Regions from separate parts of the Homo sapiens genome. Here all the other regions are linked to region 2. Evidence: fine-mapped expression QTL. A gene starts in region 2. Each other region holds a variant in brackets. All regions are shown on one strand. Distances are from middle to middle.

Region 1 (8,180 bases), 23 kb after region 2:
CTGAACCCAAAGAGCTCACCTAAGTCTGGAGCCAGAGCTGGAGCCACGGCTGGAGCTGAGGACAGAGAGGGTTCCATTTTAGGAGAGTCTCAGTCTCACTCTCCTATGACCCTATGCAAGGGGCTCCAAGAAAAGCAACTGGGGAAAACAGACCCAGAAACTCCACATCTCTCTTGAGGGAAGTGGGGGTTGGTCTTCAGGTGGTGAGGAAGAGGAGGAAGGAAGGTCCCACCCTGCTGTGGTCAGGGGAGAGGAGAGCTCAGCTTTCATTTCCCCTGTAGTGGTCTGAGGGCAAAAGTAGCGTTTGCTGAAGGCAGAAATTTGGGAGAGGAACAATACATTCAATCCAGGAAGAGAATCTATCACTCCAAGGTTGTGCCCACTTCCAAGTGGGAGAGGCTAATCAGTGAAGACAGCCTAGTTCTCTCACTGTTTGGGGTGCTACTTGTAGACTGCCCAATCCTGTCACTGTTCGGGGCACCGCTTGTAAACTGCACGGACCTTGGGGGACTGAACAAAGGGGGACGAACGCGGGAACAAAGACAAGAGAACAAAAGAATGTGTTTGGAAGAAGGGGTCAGGGGGCACCTTGCCTCTAGTGGACAAGGGCCCTGAACTTTACACAGCCCTCCATATTTATTAGGCAAAAGAGATAGCGAGAAGGAGGGGTGGAAGAAGAGGTCAGCTGCTCCATCTAGAGTAGGCTTGCAAGACTGTATTCCTTGAACAGTAGGCCCTAGATGTCCCAGAAGATAACTTCAAGGAGCCGGCGCCAGGGAGTGACCGCCCTCAGCAAACCTTCTGGCGGCAGGTGCAGTCGTGAGTTTGCTCACATCCTGTATTCATGATAAACAGTTTGCTGTTTGATCATATAGCCTCCAGTGGAATGCTGAGTTGGTCACGATCTCTTTGGCCTTTTCGGCTCCCAACAAATCAGATGGTGTCAGCGGAATGTAGAACATCCTTTTCCGCTGCTGCCATTGCCCCAGCTGTGAGGGCAGCAGAGGCCTGAGGAAGAGGTTGCTCAGTCGGGCTGCAGCCACAGCTTGCTTCCCGGCAGCAGTCCCATGAGAATCAGCCGGCTGTGCTCTCACCTTTCAGTCAGTGACGGTGAAGAGGGAACCTTTGCATTCTGTGCCCAGCTTCATTCTCCAGTCCAATCCATGGGTTTTCTGGACTGACTTTAATCCAGTCCACACCCACCTTTGGATCCCAGAGGGGGCCCACAGACACCATAATCCCCCTGTGGCCACAAATAAGCCCTGTCAAAACTTGGAAGAAGGCTGGGCGCAGTGGCTCATGCCTGTAATCCTAGCACTTTGGGAGGCCGAGGTGGGTGGATCACCTGAGGTCAGCAGTTCTAGACCAGCCTGGCCAACATGGTGAAACTCCATCTCTACTAAAAATACAAAAATTAGCCAGGTGTAGAGGCAGGTGCCTGTAATCCCAGCTACTAGGGAGGCCAAGGCAGGAGAATCGCTTGAACCTGGGAGGTGGAAGTTGCAGTGAGCCGAGATTGTGCCACTGCACCCCAGCCTGGGTGACAGAGCGAGACTCCATCTCAAAAAAAAAAAAAAAAAAAAAAAAAAGAAAGAAAGAAAAGAAAAGAAAAGAAAAACCTGGAAGAGAGGACCTGGGGCAAAGCTAACCTCCTCAGAGACCCAAGGACCCACAGTTGCTCTCAGAGCATCAGATGTTCCAGATGCAGGAAAGTAGGAACACATCTCTAGGTCAGAGATATCACATGAAATATAGCTCCCAATGAATGACACTGCCTCTGACTGTGACCAGTAGAGAAGGGTCCCCAGGAGAGAGCCCCAGAGGCAGGAACATACCTGTTTCTTATCTGGAGAGTAAGGGAGAGGTGCAGGATCCTGGGGCTGAGGGCAGGGGAGGCCAACCCCAGGCTGACACTCTGGGGTCTCCCCTCTGAGTTTCTCCTCCTCTGTAGCTTGTATCAGATACCCATAATTTATATCCCTTTAAGCTTAAAGCCAGCCATCTTGGAGTCTAAACAGCACCATGCCAGGGGCTTGTGAAGGAAGATGCACCTCTCTTCCTGGGGTTCTGAAGCCCCCGCTTCAAGTCCTCAGTGTACCCCTGTATCCTAGGGTCCAAGATTGTGGCATCAGGCCTCCATGCCAGGTGACCTTCCTAGGAAGCGGTAGATCCATGGGTAGAACTATCTGAGGAGTCCAGCACATGGTTAAAAACCTAGGTGTGGCTTTTCAGGTTCGATCACAGGCAGTTGCAAAGGCTTTTCCTGGCAGGCCTCACTGGGAGACTCCACCCTCTTCACACTCGGTTGTGGTCAAGGACCCCACCTTTCTGGCCAGTCATGCGCTATGCATATTTGCATTTCTATCCCAGTTACATTTATTTCTAGGCCTCGTTTTCTGAGGCCTTGGACAGAGGTCTTCCACAGATGCCTCTGCTGAGACCACCTTGCGGGGGGCAGGAGGAGGAACCTTGAAGACACGTTTCCCCACTCTGACTCAGTACTCAGTTCTTTTCCACTCCTAGCCCTTCTCATGCCCCCACCCTTCCCAGGGTCTGTGGAACTGCCTGAGCCTTTTGTTCAGGGCTCCCTCCTCAGTGAGAGGACCCCGACCCCTATGTCTGTGTTGATCCATGAGCCACCTGACCCTCCAGCAGTGTGCACTGTTCCAGAGGGGTGGCAGGAAATGAAACAAGAAGAGTTGGTGCATTCTCTGGTTTAGACTCTTGCCTCTATCACTGCTGTCTGTGATTAAAGGCTTGATTCATTCTTTCAGTTTGGTCTATTGTTGCTTTAATCGGTGATCCTGCCACCTTGAAGCACAGCTCTCTCTCACAGCCCAGCTGAGCTCCTCATACCACCAGGCTCAGCATCCCCCTTGGATGTTGGCCAGGACACCTGGGTGGCTGAGGGCTGCCAGGATGGACAGGAAGGGTTCAGGGCCTGAGAGATTCAACGCCTGGTCAGGAGCTCGACTGGAGAAGGGAGGAGAAATCACAGCAGTCCCCACCTCAGCAGCTTTCCATGGATTTAGCCAAAGAGGCAGAGCAGCCATACTCCTCCGCATGGTGGTAGAAAATGGTGGCTTTCTCCATTCCAGATGCCAGATGCCAGATTCTCCACAGAATCTGGCTATTGGCCCCACCCAAGGAAATGGTACAGGTAGGAAAAAAACCTTCCCTCTGGGGTCGTGATGAAGGTGGGCTTGCTGCTTGCTCAGGACAGAAGTGGAGGCCCAGAGCTCCGACAGGAGAGGACTGAAGACATCCCAATGAGTCCCACTCCCCCTCACCCCGCTGCCCCCTGCAGTCTGCCCCTCCCACCCATCCCTGATAAAATTCTCACCACTGCTGTCACCAATGTGCAGCTCCTTCTCCTCCTACCTCCCTGGCCAGGCCATCTCAGCCATTCCCCAGCCCACAATTAAGCTTAAGATTGTGTGTTCCCCACCCCTCCCACTGGGGCCTTCTGTTTCCCCTTGGTGAACACATCCACCTCCCCTGAGTACAACCCCA[G/A]TAGGCTTTGTGAAACTCCCTACCCCTCCCTCTCCAGCCCAGACCTGCCCCCAAGCCCTGACGGTTCATCTCACCAGCTCTCTGCCATGACACCCCCAAGTCCCTGCTGCTTGAGTCGGGGCTCTGGGAGCCACTGCAGATGCTCCCCTCTCTCACGCATTATAAGAATTAAAGAAAGAAGAAGGAAACACAAAAAACAGCTGAACAGTTAAAGATAGGTTTATTTTGGAGACTAAACCTGAGAAGGGCTTCTGGCTGAGTTAGGTCAGAGGCACTCTCTTTTACCGACTAAGAGTTTTTAAGGATTCAGGGCGGTACAGCTTATCACAGGCTCAGAATGTTTCTGTGTCTCTTTGTCTTGCTTACCTGGGAGGGAGAGTTTTGTGTCTAATCCCATACGTCTTCCTGCAGCTGCAGGCATACCCCCTGAGTCTGCTTTTAGCTTCCCTATCTTAGTGTACCTAAAGGGGAAGGAATGTGTTTATTAGGGCCCACTGTTTTACTGGGGCCCATTGTATGAGTGTGAAGTTTGGTGGTTACCCAGGAGACTTTTCCCCCTCAGACATCCCTTTATGCCTGAGCTGTCTTATCTGTGTTTCACTGTCTGCTCTTTCCGGCTGCTTGTTGTCAGAAGATAAGTGATTTCCTTGAAATGCACGAGGCTAGAAAGGGAGCTGGAACTTAAAGTGGCAGTGTTAGTCTGAGATGATGGTGCTCCTGCTCTGTCATGCACCACCACCAACCCTGCAAAGTCCACTTTCTGAAAATGTCTCAAATTGCTTCTTTCTTCAATCACCAAGGTGACTTGTTTTGAGAGTCCCCAGCTAAACTGGGGCTTCAGTGCCAGAGTGGCTGATGACCCTGCCCTAATGGGAAATGAAGGAGAGCTGGACGTGGTGTCTACAGCGTACATTTCACAGGATCTTTCTCTTACGTGGAGGATGATCTAATGCCTGGTTGTCTGACCCATGACCATGGGTGCCTCACATGGGCAACTTGTTTAAGCTACAGATGCCCCTGTGGTTCTTTTCTGACCCGTGTTCACTTTATGCCTGCCTGACCATTTCCCTGGCACTGGAAGTCCACCCTTGTACCCTCCCAGGTGTCCTGGGGGGAAACCCAGCCTAGAGTAGCCACAGTTCTTCAGGTGGAGGGTGCAAGTTCAATGCACCATCAAGCTAGGAAATATGTTTAAAGATTTTTACTTATAAACTCCAGGCAATGAGGGTGTAATGAGTGGAGGGGGGGCAGTAATTAGTGGGGGGACCCAGTCCATCCCTGGGTCACCCGAGTCAGGAATGAGGAGTCAGGCAGAGTGAGAAAGAAAAGCACACGGCAACTGGCAGTACCTCTCAGGGAATCGGGTGTGGTTACTTTAAGTTCATGGGTAAATATCTGTGGTTCCCTTAAAGGTAGCAGCAGAAAAAGCAGGAAGGCAAGTCTGCTTTTACAGGAGAGATGCCGCTGGTTCTTTTATTTACCTATTGTTTTTTGTAGAGATGAGGTCCCTCTATATTACCCAGGCTGTCTTGAACTCCACTCAAGAGATCGACCCGCTCAGCCTCCCAAAGTGCTGGGGTTGGTTGAAGGGCATGAGTCACTGTGCCTGTCTAAGTTCTTATCTCTGGCCACCAGCTTGAGCCATTTGAGTGTGGTTTAGAACTGGAAGTTGTTAAGGATGACTGAGCCCCGCTTCTGGTATTTCAAAAGGACACTGAGGTCGCATGCAATTCTAAGAATTCACTACATTACTCTCTCCTTGAAGGCATGGTTCTTCCTTACCGAACAATCGCAACAGCTTTCTCTCTAGGCCCTTAGCCTGCAGTCTGGCCTTGGAGGGATCTATCTGACATGTATATATTATGGTGACCCTTTTCTGCATGAGAACCTTCCATGACTCCCTATTGTCCTTGGAGAAAGCTCAAGCCCATCATTGTTTCTGTCTTCCAGGACTACTTGAGTTAGTTGAGCGTCAGGAATGATGCAAATCTGTCTCTTTTACTTTTGTTTGAGAATGAATGCACACATGGAATGAATGAAGTGTTGCTGCTCTTACCTCACGTGGACCCTTTCATGCCTCTGGTGCTGATCTCTAGGAGACTGACCTCTGTGGGGGTCCCACGCCTGTGATTCATGGGGAACTGGCCAGGTGGCACCTGTTTCTCCAGTCACTTGTGCACAAGTCCAGGAGGCAGGACTTGGGGACTCCGGTCCTTCGTTGCTGCCTTACTTAGGGCAAGCCTCTTGCCTTGTCTGAGCAACATGCAGAAATGGAACTCAGTTTTCTTAAAGAGTTAATTACAATGGACTCATTGTGTGTCTGAAGTTCCCTTTACTGGGCTGGTCACCTCTTGTTCTCACCACAAGCTTCCTCTGCTGTCCCACACCTGTAGCTTTCCCTTCCCTTTCAGAGAGGTCTGCCCCTGGGTATGAGGCAGAGATGCCACTGCTGCTGACCCTGCATAGGCTGCGGGGACAGCAGCCCCCACTCAGGAGGCTCCAGAGCCCAAGGCTTAGTCTTTTCCTCACTCCAGGGCTCCTGGCTTAGGTTCTGGAACAGCTGCAGTTCCAGGAACCTGTGATGGTGCAGAAGGGCCTGTGTGTCCTCAGGCTGCAGAAATTTCCCTACTCCTGGACTTACTATGGAACCCTCCACCTGTGCTGGTTCCAGAAAGGGGTGGATGTAGACCACAATCCTCCAGTGACCAGGACAAATGCTTCATGGCAGGACCCAGGACCAATTCCTCCTGCCCAGGGACCTCAAGACCAGCAACTTCTCCCTGAGCATCAGAGGCACACACGGGGACTCTTTTTTTCTTTTCTTTTCTTTTTTTTTTTTTTTTTTTGGGATGGAGTCTCACTTTATCACCAGGCTGGAGTGCAGTTGCACAATCTTGGCTCACTGCAACCTCCGTCTCCCGGGTTCAAGAGATTCTCCTGCCTCAGCCTCCCAAGCAGCTGGGATTATAGGCACCCGTCACCATGCCCTGCTAATTTTTGTATTTTTAGTAGCGACAGGGTTTCACCATGTTGGCCAGGATAGTCTCAATCTCTTGACCTCATGATCTGCCCGCCTCGGCCTCCCAAAGTGCTGGGATTGCAGGGATAAGCCACTGCGCCCAGCCCACACGGACTCTTCAGAAAGGAGAAACCATTCAGGAAACATTCATATCTTGTAGGATGCTCTCTTGGAATATGACAAGTATGTTAAAAGCCCAGACACCAGAAATAAAGCAATGAAGGTTCTGCTCCTTCTAGAGGTGGTGGCATGCCGACAGCGTGAAAGGACCCTGGGGTGGGCTGATAACACTCAGAGGGTCCCCAAGCTCCTCTCTCTCCTCACCAGCCCTGACCCACAAGCCCAACATTTTCATCCCAGGGATTCTGGGGTACCAGTCACACCAGGAACCTTACCTGCTATGTGTTCTGGGCCTGTGAATGGGAGGAGCCCCCTCCACATTCTTCTGAATGGGGGTCTCCCTGTTGCATCTGGGCTCCAGGACCTTCGGCTCCTCAGTGCTCACGATCACCCCATGGCCCCAGGACCACAGCACCAACCTCACCTGGCAGGTGAAGTTCCCTGGAGCTGGTGTGACTACAGAGAGAACCATCCAGCTCAGTGTCTCCTGTGAGTGCTGGGGCCAGGATGCCTGGGTTCCTGAGGGTGTAGGGGGTAGAGGAGGGTCAGGGCAGGGGACACTTTGTGGCTATGTCCTGGAGGCCTGGCTGAGCAGGGGAACTAGAAGGACACAAGCTCTGTCTTTTGACATTCCTGTGGCTTCTGGGGTAGGGGAGGAGTACCTACTTTTACCTCATCTCCACCCCAAAGAAAGGGAAATTCTCTCTTCCTGTTCTAGATGCTCTAAGGAACCCAAGGATTGGTGTCTCTCTAGGAGACGGCACAGGTAGGACAGAGCCCCCTCCCTGGGGCTGAGGGAGCAGGGCCTGCAGCTTGGGGCAGGGCTGGGCTACTGCTTCTTCCTGGACTCAACTTCGTAACCTGAGACCCTCTTGTAAGTGAAACAGAGGTCTTCCCCATCGTTAGTCTCCAAGGCCACCTGAGCACCTGTCCCCATCCTCCCCTCACTCCCCTTGGCCTCTTCCACACACAACTCCCACTGGCCCCATAACAAGGGCAGGGTGCCATTCACATAGCAGATCCAGGCTTTGAGTCCCCACCTGCTGAATACTCCTCTTCCCTCATCTTCTTATTCTCCCCAGTAGTCCTGATCTAAGTTCTTCTGAACAGATGATATAGTCACATGGGTGAGAATTCAGAGTGCACAGTAGAATCTACCCTCAGACACCCGTCCCCTTCCCCAGAATCCGCCAGTGTCTGTCCTGGCTGCGCTGCGCCTTGATTTGCTTGCCCGAAGGATCTCAGTGATGGTTTAACATCAGTAGTGACATCAGAGTGACATTACTCTCCTCCAGTACTGTGGGTGATTCCACTGTGTGGATGGACTCCAATTTCGTGGCATCAAAAATGTGGACTCTGATTTTGTGCCTAATGGAATATCATGGCACTAATTTTATCTTACCAACAGTAACACTGCAATAAATAATCTTGTATCTACTGCCACAAGTGTACATCTATGCCTGTGAAATCAGTTCTTAAATGCAAAATAGTTGGGTCATATGTTCTTTCTAATTTTGAAAAAATATGG
Region 2 (8,180 bases):
TGTTCTGAACACGCAAGTTGACCAACATCAATGCAAATGAGAGAAACGTTTGTGCATCTGCACTGCTGTCACAAAGACTTAGACAATTTCATGTTTTAAACTTGTTTTGTTTTGAGACAGGGTCTCACTCTATTGCCCAGGCTGGAGTGTAGTGTCATGATTGCAGCTCACTGCAACCTTGACCGCCTCAAGCTCAGGTGATCCTCCCACGTCAACGTACTCAGTAGCTGGGACTACAGGTGCATGCCACCACACCTGGCTAATTTTTGTATTTTTGTAGAGTCTCGCCATGTTGCCCAGGCTGGTCTCCAACTCCTGGGCTCAAGTGATCCGCCCGCCTCGGCCTCCCAAAGTGCATGAGCCACTGTGCCCCACCTAAACTTGTATGTTTCAATTTTTCTTTTAAGAACGACTTTTAAATATTTGGGGTATTTACAATTTTGAAAATGATTTATATGTGCAATTTATTTTGTGTTAATGTTCCCTTCTTTTAATACTTTCTATTATCAAATGTTTCTAGCAGGTTGAGATGATTTTAACAGGTTACTGAAATATATAATCTCACAATATATTGGTTCAGGATAATAACACACATATTTATTATACTTTTTTTAAAAAACAGAACATCTCTGTAAATTTGGTTATAAACCCATCACAGAACAATGGTACACTGTTTACTATTATAGTCACATACTATTTAAAGACTTGTAAATAAAGCATCAAGAGATACACAGAATAATTTAGGATTTCAGGAAATCTTGACTATACCAAGAATTCTGATTTCTTGTTACCAAATCCTGACTATTTCTATCTGTGGGCAATCTGGAAACACTGTTTTCCAGCATTTTTTGTTCACCTTTTTAAACAGGAAAAAGTGTTTAAAAGCCTCTTCACATGGTCCTTAAAAGCCTCTTCTCACTCTACCTCCCTGTGACTATTTAAATTACAAAGGAAGGAGATTTTGCCGCACCTTATGAGAACAGAGGAAAAACGGGCCAAACCCCATGGACCAAGCAAGGAATTTGGTGGGGGGGACCACTTGAAATTTTTCAAAGACCCAGTGGTGGATGAAGGAGCAGAACCAGTGCTTAGCAGGAAAGAGTCAGCTTTTCCATCCTATGACTGGGGCTTCTGATCAGACCAGGGACTACAGTTTCTTCTTTCTTGACCCAAGGCCAACCCTCTACTATCCTCTTTTATCAGCCAGTTCATGGTTTCCTCTAGAACACAGATAGCCTATGAATGTGGAAACATCAGCCTCTGTGGTCCTCGCTTGACAGGAGGCTCAAGACTGACTCAGGAGCAGGGAGCCCAGACCTGCTGCATCCTGTGTCTGCCCTCACGTTCTGGAGAACTATCCCCAGGGCTGCCCCTGTTTACCTCGCAAGATCCATCCTGCTTCTCTGGACCCAGGACCTGAGGCTTCTGGGATAAATTCACATCAGCAGGCATCTCCACTCTGGGCTTCTACTCTCGGTCTCTCTTGCTGACAACTCCACTTTTCCCAGGAGCCAGAAGCTGGATAGGTGTTTGGATTTTCCAACCAGGGACACGGCGGAGAGTCGTACTGGGCTATGAAGAGAGATCCTGCAGCCTCAATGATGTGGCCTGACCTGGGGGTTCTGCAGAAGCCTTGGAAAAGCAATGAGTACATGGTCACTCATTCAACATTCACTCCACAAATATTTCCTGAGGGCACTGAGGTGAAGTCACTGTGTCAGACATTGGAGTAGACAAAGTTCAGAAAGCCCAACTCTAGTTATTAGTCAGGGTTAAAAATAAAGACTGAGTCTGGACTAAATGGTGAATTCATTGCAGCTTTGCCACATTTTCACTGTGAGAATATGAAAATATTACTTTAGTTGTAGTTTCCAAAATGAAAATGCAGGTATTTATCACAGATGTTGGGAAACTTAACCAAGATGAAGCTTGTCAAGTCCTCAGTGCCTGCCTGGCACGTGATAAATATGAATTAAAAAAAGAAAGTTGTCAATTTAATTGTCAGCTAAATATCATGGGCATTATCATACCCATTTTGAGGATGAGGATAATGAGGCTGTGTGCTGTTACATAATTTGCCTGAAGGTTACTCAGTCTGTAAATGGAAAAACAGGGAATCAGCCCCACATCTGCCTTGTTCTAAACTGTACACTGTCTCCACTATCTCATGTACCCATACGTGGCCAGCTTCCAGAAACACCATTTCCTCTTTCTGTTGCCTTCATAGAACTCAGGCCGGGAGGTGGCTCTGTCTGGTGTACCTATTCTGAGCTTCTGGACTTTTCAGTCCCCGTCCATAATACACCACACACAGACCAGCCTCTTCTGACTAGAGCTAAAACTTAAAATCACTGTCCCAATCCCCATCTTGACACAGAAAATTTGCAGACATGCATCAGGGCCTCCAGTTACCATTTCTTGCCTGTCCACAATAAGTTGCCCCCACCGCACCTGAATGCAATCACTGACAGGACTGACTTTCAGAAATCCCCAATGAGTGTACTACAGGGCTGCCAGAAAGTTCCAAAATGCCTCCCAGTCACTGACATGGCACAGGCTTCTGAAATCTTTACTGCCCTGATAGCCAAGAAATGTTTCCCAGCGAGCACAATTTTCTGGTTTCCATAAAACGACAAATAATCCCCAACATAGGGGTCCAAATGAAATGCCCCAATAGGAAACCATCATCGATGTGCTCAACTGTCAATTACTGATCCTTACCATGTCCAAGGGACCCAAGAAGAGGCCAACACTGACCCACCCACCAATCCCTGAAGGACCCCAACACTCACTGCCTAGAAAGCAATGCATTCACCCTCACAAATCCCCATCATTGACCCCCTACGCCTCCAGTCAACTGGCTGCCATAGGCTACCCCTGGCAACCCCACTCTACTGATTCCTATAGGTTGCCCATCACTGGTCCCCTGAGAGTGTTACAGTGTGATCCTCAAAGTCCTCCAACCTCTGAAGCTCTTGGCTGCCAATCAATCACTGACTCCCCTAGTCCCACGGACAGTGAATCCCTTCCCTGAACGTCCTCCAGCACCATCCGCAAAGGCGCTCTTAAGATGCACGTTCACTGTCCTCAAGTTAGCAAGTTTCGTGGACCAATATAAAATCCGATATTAAAGTACACTTGGAATTTAAGTCACAAAAATACTACAAGCAGAAAATAAGCAAGAAAAGAGGGAAAATTAACAGGCTAATTATCCAACTAAAATTAGCAAACGCCACTTACCCCACAGCACCCATCACCCACCCCAGAAACCCCTCATCGCTCAGCCAAAACAAGCCCGTCACTCACCTCACAGCCTCGTCTTCAGCCGAGAAATCCCTTTATCACGCACCCCCACCCCCAACAAGCCCCTCATCACTCCCCCAAAGCCAGCCGCCCCTTCCTGACCCTACAGAACCCCCACTGCTAATATTCCCAATCACTTCAGCGTCCAGTAAGCGACATAGGCTTAGATCCACTTAACAACAGAAGCTAAATGGTCGCTCTAGGCCACTTCCGGTTTGGGTTACATTCCCGTTAGGATTTCCGTAGGCGCTGTTGAACCGCGCGCATGCCCACTAACACTTTTGAAGCTACGCTCCGCCAACAGTTATCATGGCGTATAACGGCGTACCTTTATTCCGCGGTTCATTCAACTTCAGAAACTTGGTAGGGAGGACGGCATGGCCGCACCCATACGGATTATGATATTGGAGGCCGCCATCGTCAAAGGGCTTTTATTCCGTACAGCCAAGGACAAATGGAATGTCACAGAGTAAAAGTCTTGGGTCCTACATTGGCAGGGGACCTATTCAATACTTGTGTATATATATTTCTAGGAGAAACTGACATGTATTCTGAAAAATACTTTTTCTCTATATTTTTCCCTCTGATTTAAAGACTTTTTTTTCCTGAATTGCTGAACAACTCACTGTCTTTAATAGCACTTTTGAAAATGTTATCTTTCTGAGAAATTGTATCTTTGTTATCCTTACACCATTGCTCTCTATACCTGGATGAACCTATTGATGAAGTAACCTACCAAGCGACCACCTGAAGAGAGAATTTAGGGCTCTTGGGACACTTCATTTAAAGAGAGGCGAATGAAAAAAATATAATCAAGTTAAAGGAAAAAAACACAATTACTGAGATCAATGTCAGCCAGCCCAACTGGGCAGAATTTTCAGGAAGAGGTTGTTCAATCAAATAAACAAAAATATATTCTAGAAGGTGAGTAATAGCAATCATAAAATTAAAAAAATGGCTGATTATGGGAAATAGGAGGCAGGGCTGAGTGAGGATCTGAAGGTGAAGATCTGAAATGATCCTTCTTTTTTAAAAAATAGTAATTTAAATATATTGCTTTCGTAGTTTGTGCCATTTTGTAGTTACCGATTTTACATTCTGTGTTCACAGCTTCTGCCACCCCATCTCTGCACTTAAAGCCACCATATTACTTTTAATTACTTCATACCTCATTTTTAGTCCATTTGAATAATAAAATAAGACTGCTTAGCCAATGAAGCATTTTTTTGAACATGGTTTCCCAGGAATAGTTGAGTTTTCACATTAGTATCTGAACCTAACTTTGTTACATGAAGCATGAAACCTGCTTTTATTTTAAAACATCAATTATATATTTACTGTAAGCAAATAGTGTAAAATCAATAAAAACACTTATCTTTATTATGTGAGAAAGTGTGACATTTTGTTTGAGTTACTAAGAAATTCCCCGGACTTAGAACTTTTGAATTTTCTCCACTTATAAATCTGAGACTATTCTTTACTGTGTCATAGGATTTACCCTACGGCTTTGGTACATTTTATTTAAAAAAAGGAAAATGCAGAGAGTGAAAATTGAGATAGAAGTAGGAGGCTTTAAGTACAACAGCCCCGCATGTGTATGTTCAGGGCAAGTTAAGGCGTCCCTCCACTGGGACATCTGTATATCTGTAGGATGAGGGGTAACTGCGCCCTCATACTCTTAGTGGGGCAGGCATACCCTAAGGTGACACCTACTGAGTCACACCTTGTACAAATCCATCCCTTTGAGTGCAAACGGAACCTGAGATTTGCTTCTTACCAACAGAATATGGCAAAAGTTATGGGACTTATCTCTATTATTAGATTATGATATTAAAATCTATGGGAACTTGAACATCATCTGCAAATACTGGAAATATTTCTCAGTTTCTAATTTTTACATTTCTTGCTTATTTTTCTGGTTTTACCTTGTTGGCTATAACCTCTTTAATAATGTCAAGTAACAGTGGTGACAGTGGGCATCCTTGTCTTGTTTCTGATTCAAATGAGAATGCTCCTGAATTTTCCTTATTTAGGGTGAGAGTTGGTGTTTTAATAGTTATCTTTTATCATATGCATGGTAATTCTAGTTGCTCCACTGCCTTATCAATACTTAGTATTGTTAGTCTTTTTAATTTAATATGTTTTAGTGAGTATCTCATAGTGGTATCTCATAGTAATTTTAATTTGCATTTCCCAGATCAAGCATTTTTTCAAGTGCCGAATGGCCACTCATTTATCCTCTTTGCTGAAGCAACTCTTCAAATCTTCCACCCATTTTTCATTGTGTTTTAAAATTATTGTGTTGTGAAAATTTTTTATATATTCTAAAAATAAGTCTTTTAGAGATATACATATCACAAACATTTTTCTTCCAGTCTGTGGTTGCTTTTTTATTTCATCTATTCTAATCTTTAGAAGTTTAAAAATTTGATTATGACATTCTAGAAGAGTTTTTTAAGATTGGAGTTGGCTATTCCTCAAGAAGACAGACAAAACTTTCTGACTATGAATCTTCATATATCTTGTGTAGATGAAAGTCAAAAAAGAAAAATAAAAAGAAAGAGAATTCTGGCTCTTGAAACTTAAATAAAGAGCTTCAAAATTAAAAGCCTTCAAAAAATAAAGACAAAAAGTCTTGTGCAGATGAAAGTCAAAAAAGAAAAAGAAAAACAATTCTGGTTCTTGAAACTTAAATAAAAGTGCTTCAAAATTAAAGTGCTTCAAAAAATAAAGACAACTGTTTGCAACTTATGAGGACTTCAGAATTTCAAATGCTTTGCTTTAAACTATGCCAAGAACTCTCATCCTGGCCAACTTCAAACCAGTCTACTGCCTTCATGACTCAACGCCTTATTAAATAATGATCTCAACAAGATGCCTGCCCTCAAAATATCTGATAGCAATTGTGCCTGTTTTTTTTTTCCTGGAAATCAAAGAAAGTAAACAACCAAGAGCATTAAAAGAAACTTTACCCAAAAAATATAGTATTGAACAGACCATTCTATATACAGAAATGAAACTGTTTATCACCTTCATTTATAGCTAAGGATAAATGCTCGCCCACTGACTAAAATGACCCTTTTCTTTCATATATCTCATTTTAAGCAAACCTATTCTAAGACCTCTGGTAAAAAGAGACTTCATCACTCTGAGATATAGGATTCAAAAGCAAAATACAAATTAACAGTTGTGATTCGCATCACAAGAAATTGTATGCTAAGGAAGTGTGCTGAAGTTTTCCCAAAGTTCAATTACTGATCTGTTCAAATGGATCCAATATTAAGATTCTAAGAACATCATTCTGATTCATTCATATTCTGATATTGCACCTTCCACAGAAGTAAAGGAAGAGGAGCCCTTGGAAATTGCATGTGGCCTGAAGACAAACTTTGGCCAAGCCTATGAAAATGAGATTCTTAGTCTGCTTAGGGTTTATGTGGGAAAATGGCTGAGGGCTTTGGCTGGAGGAATGAAGGTCACTGACAGGTTTTAATCAGGAGTGTGATCTCCTTTATTCTTGTGTCTAGAATGACTATCCAAACTGCCAATTAACAAAACTGGAAAAATTAATAATTCCTGAAACGAGAGAGGCAATGGTTACTCTCATTCAAGATTGGGGAAATGGACACTGTTTCAGCCGTTTTCTCAAACTCCTGGCCTCAAGCAATCCTTCCATCTTGGCCTCCCAAAGTGCTAGGATTACAGGTGTGAGCCACTGTGCATGGCCTGTTACAGCCATTTTTGAAAGCAGTTTGTAAATACTCATCTTTGTCTTGCAAACATATTACTTTCTCTTGAAAAGGTGATCCAGTTTCTGCTAAAAATATCTTCTACGGAAATAATCAGAAATTATATTTTTACACGAGTCACATTTGTAGCTTGAAGTCAGTCATGATAGAAGTGTTTACACTGCAGAAATTGGCAAATACTATCCATCAAGTCTTGATTTATCATTTTATTGATTGTCTACGCTTGATATAGTGATGAATAAAATATTAATAATGCAACTTAAAAGATGTTAATATCTGCAGTCATTACACTGTAAATAGCACAAAAATTCAGAAATATTCTTCTAGTGTAGATATTCCAAAACTTATCTGATTAAACAAAGAGTTTACTCCTGTCATTGACAGAAGAATAAAATCCCACCATACATCTCATTATTTCTGTTTTATCTTACTCCTTAATGTAAATGAAAATATCAACCAACATTCATAACTACACAGTGTACTGTTCATCAATTGCCATTATAAGTTAGCTCAAGTTGCAAAAGTTCAGAAAAATCAGTGAAAACATTCTGTGAGAATCAGTTGATTATGTAGAATTTACAATAAAAAGTATAGTACATTTTATTATTATTTAAAAGTTACGTGCTGCAGGGAGATGAAGGCCCGTGGGACGTGACCAACTCAGCATTCCACTGGAGGCTATATGATCAAACAGCAAACTGTTTATCATGAATGCAGGATGTGGGCAAACTCACAATTACTCCCACTGCCAGAAGGTTTGCTGAGGGCCATTGCTTCCTGGCGCCGAGCTCCTTGAAGTTATCTACTGGGACATCTAGAGAATGCAGTCTTGCAAGCCTACTCTGGACCAAGCAGCTGACCTCTTCTTCCACCCCACTTCTCGCTATCTCTTTTGCCTAATAAATACAGAGGGCTGTGTAAAGTTCAGGGCCCTTGTCCACTAGAGGCAAGGTGCCCCCTGACCCCTTCTTCCAAACATGCTCTTTTGTCTCTTGTCTTTTATTCCTACGTTCACCTCCCTTTGTTCAGTTACCCTAGGTCCATGAGAGTTACATAGTGGCACCCCGAACAGCGACAAATTGAGTGCTCAACAGTGTGCTACAAATACTTTATATCAGTAAAATTTAT
Region 3 (8,180 bases), 31 kb before region 2:
TCTGCTTTCAGCTCAGGGTCCTTCATGTCTTCCACAACCCAATCCTTTGGATGAAACAGGTTGCTGATTCCAAGCATAGACTGAAAAGCTAAGTAGAACATTTGAATCTCATGGGGATAGAATGATAAAAGTTATGGCTGAGGGCTTGCCAAGGAAAAAGGGCCATGGTAAACACTGTAGTGCTGTGGTTGGGACCTTGTAGAGTAAGGATGAGTTGGAACTAGATGATACCTCATAAGGATTAAAGCCAGACCAAATTTCCTCAATATCTGATCAAATTGAAGTGGTCGGCTTGCCACAAGCAACAGTAAATATGCCCTGAAGAAGGATAATGTGACCCAGAGCTTAAAATTATCTCCATAGGTTTTCATCACTCCACCAGACAAGAGTGTGGCCAGGGAAACAGCAGCCAAGAGTTTTATGAGAATAGAGCGCTCACTAGAGGACCTAGAACTTAATGCAAATGTGGTAGAGCTGGAAAGTGATGCTTTGGAGAAGGCAGGATGATCATGAGAGCATCATTAAGCAGTTCCATTGAAGAACAGGTGTGGGTAGGCAAGACAGAGCGTGCAGGGATATATGAAAAGCCAAGTATGCCCATTGTTACCATGGGACCCCCAAAGGGGGATCTCAGAAAGTTCTATGGAAAACTGTTGCCTGCGTAGCTACTACCTCTGTAAGCACACAGCCAAGCAGGTGGTGGTAGATTTGAGGCTGGTGTTGGTCATCCCCAGGGCTGGCAATTGGGAAGATGGCCTGCATGTGGAGCAAAGCAGGGAAAACTGCCTAATACATTATGCTATTTTATAGTTGTTTACAGCAGGAGGGTAAGTCTGGTACTAGTTACTCCATTCTGCCTGGTTATTATTATTAATCACATTCACAATTTTAATGGTTCTTTTAAAAATGTAATCCAATACAATGGTGAAACTCTCCATTTTAGCATCTGTTTTTACGTGATGACAATTAAAGTCCATACCTAAAACTCATATCTAGAACACCTGTAAATACATCTGTGCTTGATGCCCAGCCTCTTGGTATTCAACAATTTTGTCATATCTCCTGGCATGCTTGTCAACTTTTTAATTTTTAGTTGAATTTCTAGTATTTTGTTTGAAAAACTGCAGAGATTTTTTTGAGCTCTGACTGAAATTTTCCTCCTCTGGATTCTAGTACAGTCTAGAACAGCACTGTGCGATGGAACTTTCATGACGATGGAGGCATTGTGTCTGCATTGTTCAATATGGTGGTAAGGAGCACTTGAAAGGTGTTTAGGGTGACTGAGGACTTAATCCTTAATTTTATTTTAATTAATTTAAAGATAAATCGGCTCATGTGGCTAGGGCTACCCTATTTTTGCTTTCTGGCAAGTGGAATAGGGACAGATCCCTTAAGCCAGCCCCAGGCTGAGTGAGTTTGAAGATGGGTTTTGGTCTTTTTGTGGGCAGGTCTACTCCCAGTTGACCCATATTTTTTGGCGGGGGGGACGGAGTCTCACTCTGTTTCCCAGGCTGGAGTGCAGTGGCGCGATCTCAGCTCACTGCAAGCTCCACCTCCTGAGTTCACGCCATTCTCCTGCCTCAGCCTCCTGAGTAGCTAGGACTACAGGCGCCCGCCACCACGCCCGGCTAATTTTTTGTATTTTTAGTAGAGACAGGGTTTCACCGTGTTAGCCAGGATGGTCTCGATCTCCTGACCGCGTGATCCGCCCACCTTGGCCTCCCAAAGTGCTGGGATTACAGGTGTGAGCCACTGCGCCCGGCCGACCCTTACTTTTAATCTGTAACCCTTCTTGAGTTCTAATGGAAGGTTTGGGGTGTTTACTGGGCCTCTCCTTATCAGACCCGGAACATCAAATTTGGCTTACCCAGTTCCATCAGACTGCTGAGAGGAGAGTTTAAACATGTTGGGCTCACCTCAGTGATCTTCCCTTCCTTCCAGGGTTTTGGTCCCTCAAGTCCTGTCTACCTTGGTAGCACCAGGCTCCATGATCTATTTGTATTTATTTAATTTTATTAATTTTTTTTTTTGTAGAGACAGGGTCTCTGTATGTTGCCCAGGCTGGCCTCAAACTCCTGAGCTCAAGAGATCCTCTCACGTTGGCACCCCAAAGTGCTGGGATTATAGGCATGAGCCACTGCACCTGGCCACCATGATTTCTGTCTCCAGCCCCAGCCATAACACTGCTGAAAGCTCAACTCAGGTTCCCATCTTCTTATCCTCTGCTTTCTGCTTGCTTCCTTAGCCTTTTGGCCCCTCCAGGAGAATGAGCTTCCCTTTTCTCTGCGATCCTGGCCAACTTGGTAGCTCTCCAATGTCATCAGATTGTTTTTGTGTGTGTATGTGTGTACTGTTTTTCCATTTGGTCTCAGTCTTAGTGTGGAAGTGTTGTTCTGACATTAGCTTCTCTATCATGGCTAGAAACCTCGCTTGCTTTGTTTGATCTCTGCCCCAAAGTCACCTTCTCAAAGAGGCCCTGGCCTTTCAAACTAAAATAACAGCTCTTTACACCTTTTCCCTTTATGTTATTTCTTATCTACAGCACTAATTATCTGACATTATATAGGTGTCTTTCCCACAAGGCCCTAAGTTCCATGAAAGACTCTGTCTTTTTTCTCTCACCAGTGCCTAGAACAGCCCCTGCACACATTAGGTGCTCAATAAGTGTTTCTTGGATGAATAATGCTGTTATTGTCCGATGGGGAGAGAGGTCTGGTCTTTGCCCTTAATGATCAGTCTAATTAGGGAGAGCATAACCCAAAACGGTGGGAAGGCCACAGAGTCAGGACAGGACCTATGGGTGGGGGACCTATGGGGTGGGGTTTGGGAGATCCCTACGCCCTGGACTGGGTGGGAGGGGAGAATCAGGAAGGTCCTCTTTCTGTAAGGACCCTGGAGGGTTTGAGCAGGCAGATGGGAAAGGGAAGGCATTCCTGACTAGGGAGGCAAGCCAGCAAAGCTCGGAGGTGGGACTGAGAACACCAAATCTCCCACAGGTTAGGCAGGAAGTTTCTGGGCCTCACTCCTTTCAGGACCAGCTGAGCAGCAATCCTGAAACTAAAAGCTCCCTGGTGGCCAAACCTTAATATGAACAACCAAGTTACTGAATCCTCCCAAGAGTACCCTGATGTCGGGGGAGTGGAGAGGGAGGGTTGCTTCTATTTTCAGAGGAGGAAATAGAAGGTCAGAAGAGTTAAGCGGCGATTCAGGCTCGCGCAGCTCTGCCTTCAGAGCTTGAGAGGTCTGCAAAGCCCACCAGCCCCTCCTTACCTATGACAAGAGACGGCAAGGGAGATTCAGGTGGTGATGGATGAGGACAGGATAGCATGGGGGAAAGGCAATCCCAAAATCTCTGACAGCTCTGGAGCCAGGCCAACCTGGTGGGAGCCCCCAGGTCAGTTACTGCGGCTCAGGCTACTGCCAGTGAGGCCGTGGAGGAGACGAAATGAGGGTGCAGCACGCGCTGCACACGAAGCGCTGGAAGGGAGGCATCGTGACGGGGGCTGTGAATGGCGTGTGTCCATCAAGTCACGTCACTCCGCTTACCCCACTGCGGGCAAACAGGAAACATCAGGAATCTGGTGCTCAAGGAGGGTCAGGACCATGCTGAGCGCACCCAGAACCAGCAGAGAACTGGGCAGGAGGTCCCCAACCAACCCCCACTCGCTCAGGAATCACAAGGTGTTCAGCCCCCTCCTCCCTGAGATCCAGGAGTCCACGACCCCAGGCCCTCCTTCCTCAGCCACAGATGCCTGGGGTCCCCAGCCCCACTTCCTCTAGCCCTAGTCCTGG[T/C]CCTCTCCTCTCTCAGACCTAGGATGGCCCCCCAGCCCCCTCCTCCCTCAGAGCCAGAAGGCCAGCTCGAGACCCTTCCTCCCTGAGACCCCGAAGTCTGGGGTCCCAGCTTCAGGGTTTCAGGTCACTGGGCCCCCATCCCCCTCCCACCTCACATGGAAGGCCAGGTAAGGTAACGGGTTTATTCACAGTGTCATTTACAGGCAGACCTCACCCGGGCGCGTCGGATCCCGGCGGGAGGCCCGGAGTCGCTAGAAGGTGGGGACGGTCTCGGAAGTGGGGGCCCGGGCCGGATCCCCGGGCGTCCCCGGCGTCGCCTCCTCGTCCAGCCCCCGGCGGCCCTTGCCGATGGCCAGGCGGGGCCGACCGCGGTTCAGGCCGTCCAGGAGGGAGCAGGCCTGGCAGAGCGCGCGGCTGGCCAGCGCCCCACAGCGGGGGCAGGCGCCGGGGCGCGGGGGCCGCGCGGCCGAGGCCAGCGCCAGGCGTTCGGCCGAGTGCACCAGGTCCAGCACCGCCGACGGCCGCGGCGCCTCCAGGCGCTTGAGCAGGTCCCGGGCGCTCCTCTCTTCTGAGAAGTAGTCGAGGCGGCGGAAGTGCCCGTACGGCACCACCTCCTGCGAGGCGAACTGCAGCGGGCGGCAGCGCGGAAGGGCACCCCCCTAGCCCGGAGAGCCCAGGCCCCCGCCCCGGGCCAGCCGCCCCGCAGGAAGTTCATGAGCACGGTGTCCACCATGTCGTCGGCGTTGTGACCTGGTGGGGAGAGACGGGAGAGGGTGAGGTGCGGCGCGGAGGGCGCTGCTGGCCAGGGAGCCCCTCGAGGAACCAAGGGTCCACCAGGACCCAGAGAGAGACTGGGAGGGGAGACCCACGGAGACCCAGGGCACAGTGGGGCCGCCAGGTCCCAGAGAGAGAGACGGCGACGGGGAGAGCGAGCCATGGAGACCTCCGAACAATGTGCAACAGCCAGGATCCAGAGACAGAGAGGGGGAGACAGAGCCATGGAGACCCCTGGGACACTGTGGGTAACCAGGACCCAGAGAGAGACGGGGAAGGGAGACCCAGGGCACAGCGGGGCCGCCAGGACCCAAGACAGAGAGGGGCAGGGGGAGGGGGAACAGATACTGATGGGGAAACCGGACCATGGAGACTCCCGGGCACCATGGAGCAACCAGAAGGAGACTGGAGGTGGACAGAAAACCTGAAGGGAACACAAACAAGCTCCTTGGGGGGAGCCCTCATTTGCCATCCACCTACTGTATACCAAGCCCTTCGCTAGCTCTCTTTCCACATAGCGGGTAAAAGTGCTTTAAGCTGCAAACACCATTTCAGCCTCAGTTAAAACTGTATTTCAGACTACACAGGAGAAAAAAGGGCCATCTAATGGGGATTCTCAAGAGAGCTGTAGACACAAGTGTCTCTGGGAATGCAGATCACGCGATTTACAAAGACCAGAAAGAAAGTTAATGAATACATACACACCAGTCGCCATACAATTTAAATGGAAACTACGTTTATTCTGCATTTTGTCATCTTATACTTGAGTCTGTATATTAAAATGCTGTTCTTCTTCGGGCTTCTCAAGTTGGTCATATTTCCCCTCCTCAAGGCCTTTGCCTCTCTGTGACCTCAGCTCAGAACACCCCCCGCCCAAACTCCAACTCATCCTTCACCTGGTTATTCACTGAGCCTTCGGGTCTCAGTTCACTCAGGAAACGTTTCCTTAATCCCCACCTTTTCCCCGCCACTAGTACCCCCTGATATAAATTCACACATTCTGTGTAATTTTCCGTAGTAGCACTCGTCAGGTTATAATTACATTCGTGAGAATCAGGCAGGAGCAGAGACTGTCTTGTGCTCTTGTGGATCATCATAACAGCAAACATTTACATCATGTTTACTGTTTTTCAGCCTCTAGTCTGAGTGCTTTATATATAACTCATCTAATTCCCAACTCAAGGACCCAGATATTATTAACATCCCCATTTTACAAAAGATGAAACGGAGGTTAAGTAATTTGCTCTAGGCTACACAGCTTGTATCTGGTATTTAGTCAATGGACGATGATTACTTATTGAAGTAATCATTGAGAGAAAATAAGAGTTGTCAGAGAGAAACCTATAAAGAAAAGGAGTTAAGAGACACAGTAGCATTTCAGACTGTGTGACTTTCGATGAGAGACACCTCTTCACATCTCTCTTTGTGAAGGGAGATACAAAGTCATTTCCCTCTACTAAAAATAGAAAAATTACCCAGGTGTGGTGGCAGGCACCTGTAAGCCCAGCTACTCAGGAGACTGAGGTAGGAGAATCGTTTTAACCTGGCACACGGAGGTTGCAGTGAGCCTAGACTGCACCACTGCGCTCCATCCTAGGTGACATAGTGAGACTCCATCTCAAAATAATAATAATAATAATAATAATGATAGCAGAGTATTCCAGCCTTAGCTCCTACAAGGTAGCCCCTCTACCTGCCAATGTGTGTACCAATGTGTCCAGAATTGGTTCCTTCCCCTGGGTTCTTGGTCTCGCTGACTTCAGGAGTGAAACCGCAGACCTTCGCAGTGTTACAGCTCATAAAGGTAGTGCGGACCCAAAGAGCGAGCTGCAGCAAGATTTATTGTGAAGAGCAAAAGCACAAATCTCCCACAGCGTGGGAGGGGACCCAAATGAGTTGCCGCTGCAGGCTCGGTGGCTAGCTTTTATTCCCTTATTTGGCCCCACCCACATTCTGCTGATTGGTCCATTTTACAGAGCACTGATTGGTTCATTTTACAGAGCGCTGATTGGTCCATTTTACAGAGTGCTTATTGGTCTGGTTTTACAGAGTGCTGATTGGTCTGGTTTTATAGAGTGCTGATTGGTGCGTTTACAAACCTTTAGCTAGACACAGAGCACTGATTGGTGTGTTTACAATCTTTTAGCTGGACGGAAAAGTTCTCCAAGTGCCCACCTGACCCAGAAGCCCAGCCAGCTTCATCTCTCACTAAGATGATGTCAGAGACCCAGAGGCTTGAAAAACCTGCCTTACTCCATCGTAGGGAGCCACACGTACTACCCACATGAGCCTTCAGTAGGCTCCGGCCCTAAATAGGCACATGCGTATTTCCCCAGCTCCTTACTGGGATCCTCCCGCTAAGCCACGCCCGATGCCCTTGTCTACAGCCATGAGCTGCAGTAAGATGCCCAGGCCCGGTGCCAGCGTGCGCAGCACGTGTGCCAGCACCGTGGAATCCTTGCCGCCCGAGGTGCCCAGGGCCACCACTGCGCCTGGCGGCAGCAGGTAGCCCACAAGCACCATGTGCTGCACCTCCGCCTCGAAGGCGGTGCAGAAGCAGGAACCGCACAGCACTTGGCCCGAGCATGGACGGCGGAGGGAGGCGCATGCCACGTGGCAGGAGGCACATGACGGGGCGGGCATTGCAAGAAGGGACAGCTTCTCCTAGACCGGGAGAGGAGGCGGGTTACACATGTTTCATTGCCTTTGAGGAGTTCCCTAGATAGTGCCCCTGCCTGGAATAGACCAGGGGCAGCTGTGGCTGCTGCTCTTATATACGTGGGTTATAAATGGGTTCTGGTGTAAGAAGGCCACTGCCTCCAGGAAGGCTTCCTGGACTGCACCCATTATGCACCAAGAAGAGAAGGAACTTAAGCTGATTTCAGGGGGAAAAAGAGGGAGCAACAAGCAGGTTATACCCAGAATTAGATCGTGTCCTGTCCAAAGGGGTGAGGGCGTCTATTAAGGACCAGTTGTAACAACTTCCAGGAGGCCACCCATGTTACAGCCCTGATCAGAAGGTAGATATTACTGACTATTCAGAGAGATTGGGAGGGGAGGGGTCAGAGACTCTTAAGGACAGAGGGAGGTCATGCTCTGTTCAAGGGAAGGGGGCTATACAGAAAAGACCAATTGGATTTCACTTTCAGGGGTCGGGGTGGGCATTCTGTCTCCAGGAATGGGTCCTGATTGTGTCTTACAAGGACATACACAGGCAGGCTAGATCAACCTCTAGGGAGACTAGCAGGGGTTGCACCTATTTTTGAGGTGAGGGTGTGTAGGCCTCCAGTTCTGAACTTAACCCCGCTCTGGTATCAGAATCCACCTAAGCTTCTGTGGCCCCCGAAAGACACAGAGAGGTTGGGAGGGGAGGGGTCAGTGATGGGGTTGGCTCATCCTTGGCCCCCAACTGTTCTCTTTCCTACCTCATCCCTCCCCACCCAGCCAAGACTCTAACTGTCCCATCGAACCTCCTTCGTCCCACTTGTCTGGTGAACCCATAAAAACTCCCCAGGCTTAGTCCCCCTCCTCAAGCCACCACCACCTCCAGCCTGCACTACTGCCGTCACATCCTTGCCATTCAGAGCAGGTCACGCTGCTTCTAGGATTTACCA

Evidence for each region. PIP is the estimated chance that this variant, and not a neighbour inherited with it, causes the effect.
Region 1: its variant is the best candidate, but not a certain one, in a credible set for the expression of ZNF175 in whole blood (TOPMed, PIP 0.88).
Region 3: its variant is the best candidate, but not a certain one, in a credible set for the expression of ZNF175 in thyroid (GTEx, PIP 0.61).

The regions. Positions count from the first base shown.
Region 1 is chr19:51,543,861-51,552,040 of GRCh38, reverse strand. It overlaps the pseudogene SIGLEC28P. Among named protein-coding and RNA genes, the nearest start is that of SIGLEC6, 16 kb to the right of the region's middle. RefSeq lists an enhancer at 5,980-6,029. The variant G/A (reference allele first, on the strand shown) is at 3,514.
Region 2 is chr19:51,566,602-51,574,781 of GRCh38, reverse strand. ZNF175 (zinc finger protein 175) reads right to left here and starts at 3,499. Exons shown (of 5, transcript NM_007147.4): 1 at 3,307-3,499; 2 at 1,381-1,632. The coding sequence starts at 1,452. RefSeq lists an enhancer at 3,778-3,837.
Region 3 is chr19:51,597,573-51,605,752 of GRCh38, reverse strand. It overlaps the pseudogene LOC339352. Among named protein-coding and RNA genes, the nearest start is that of LINC01530, 7.3 kb to the right of the region's middle. The variant T/C (reference allele first, on the strand shown) is at 3,793.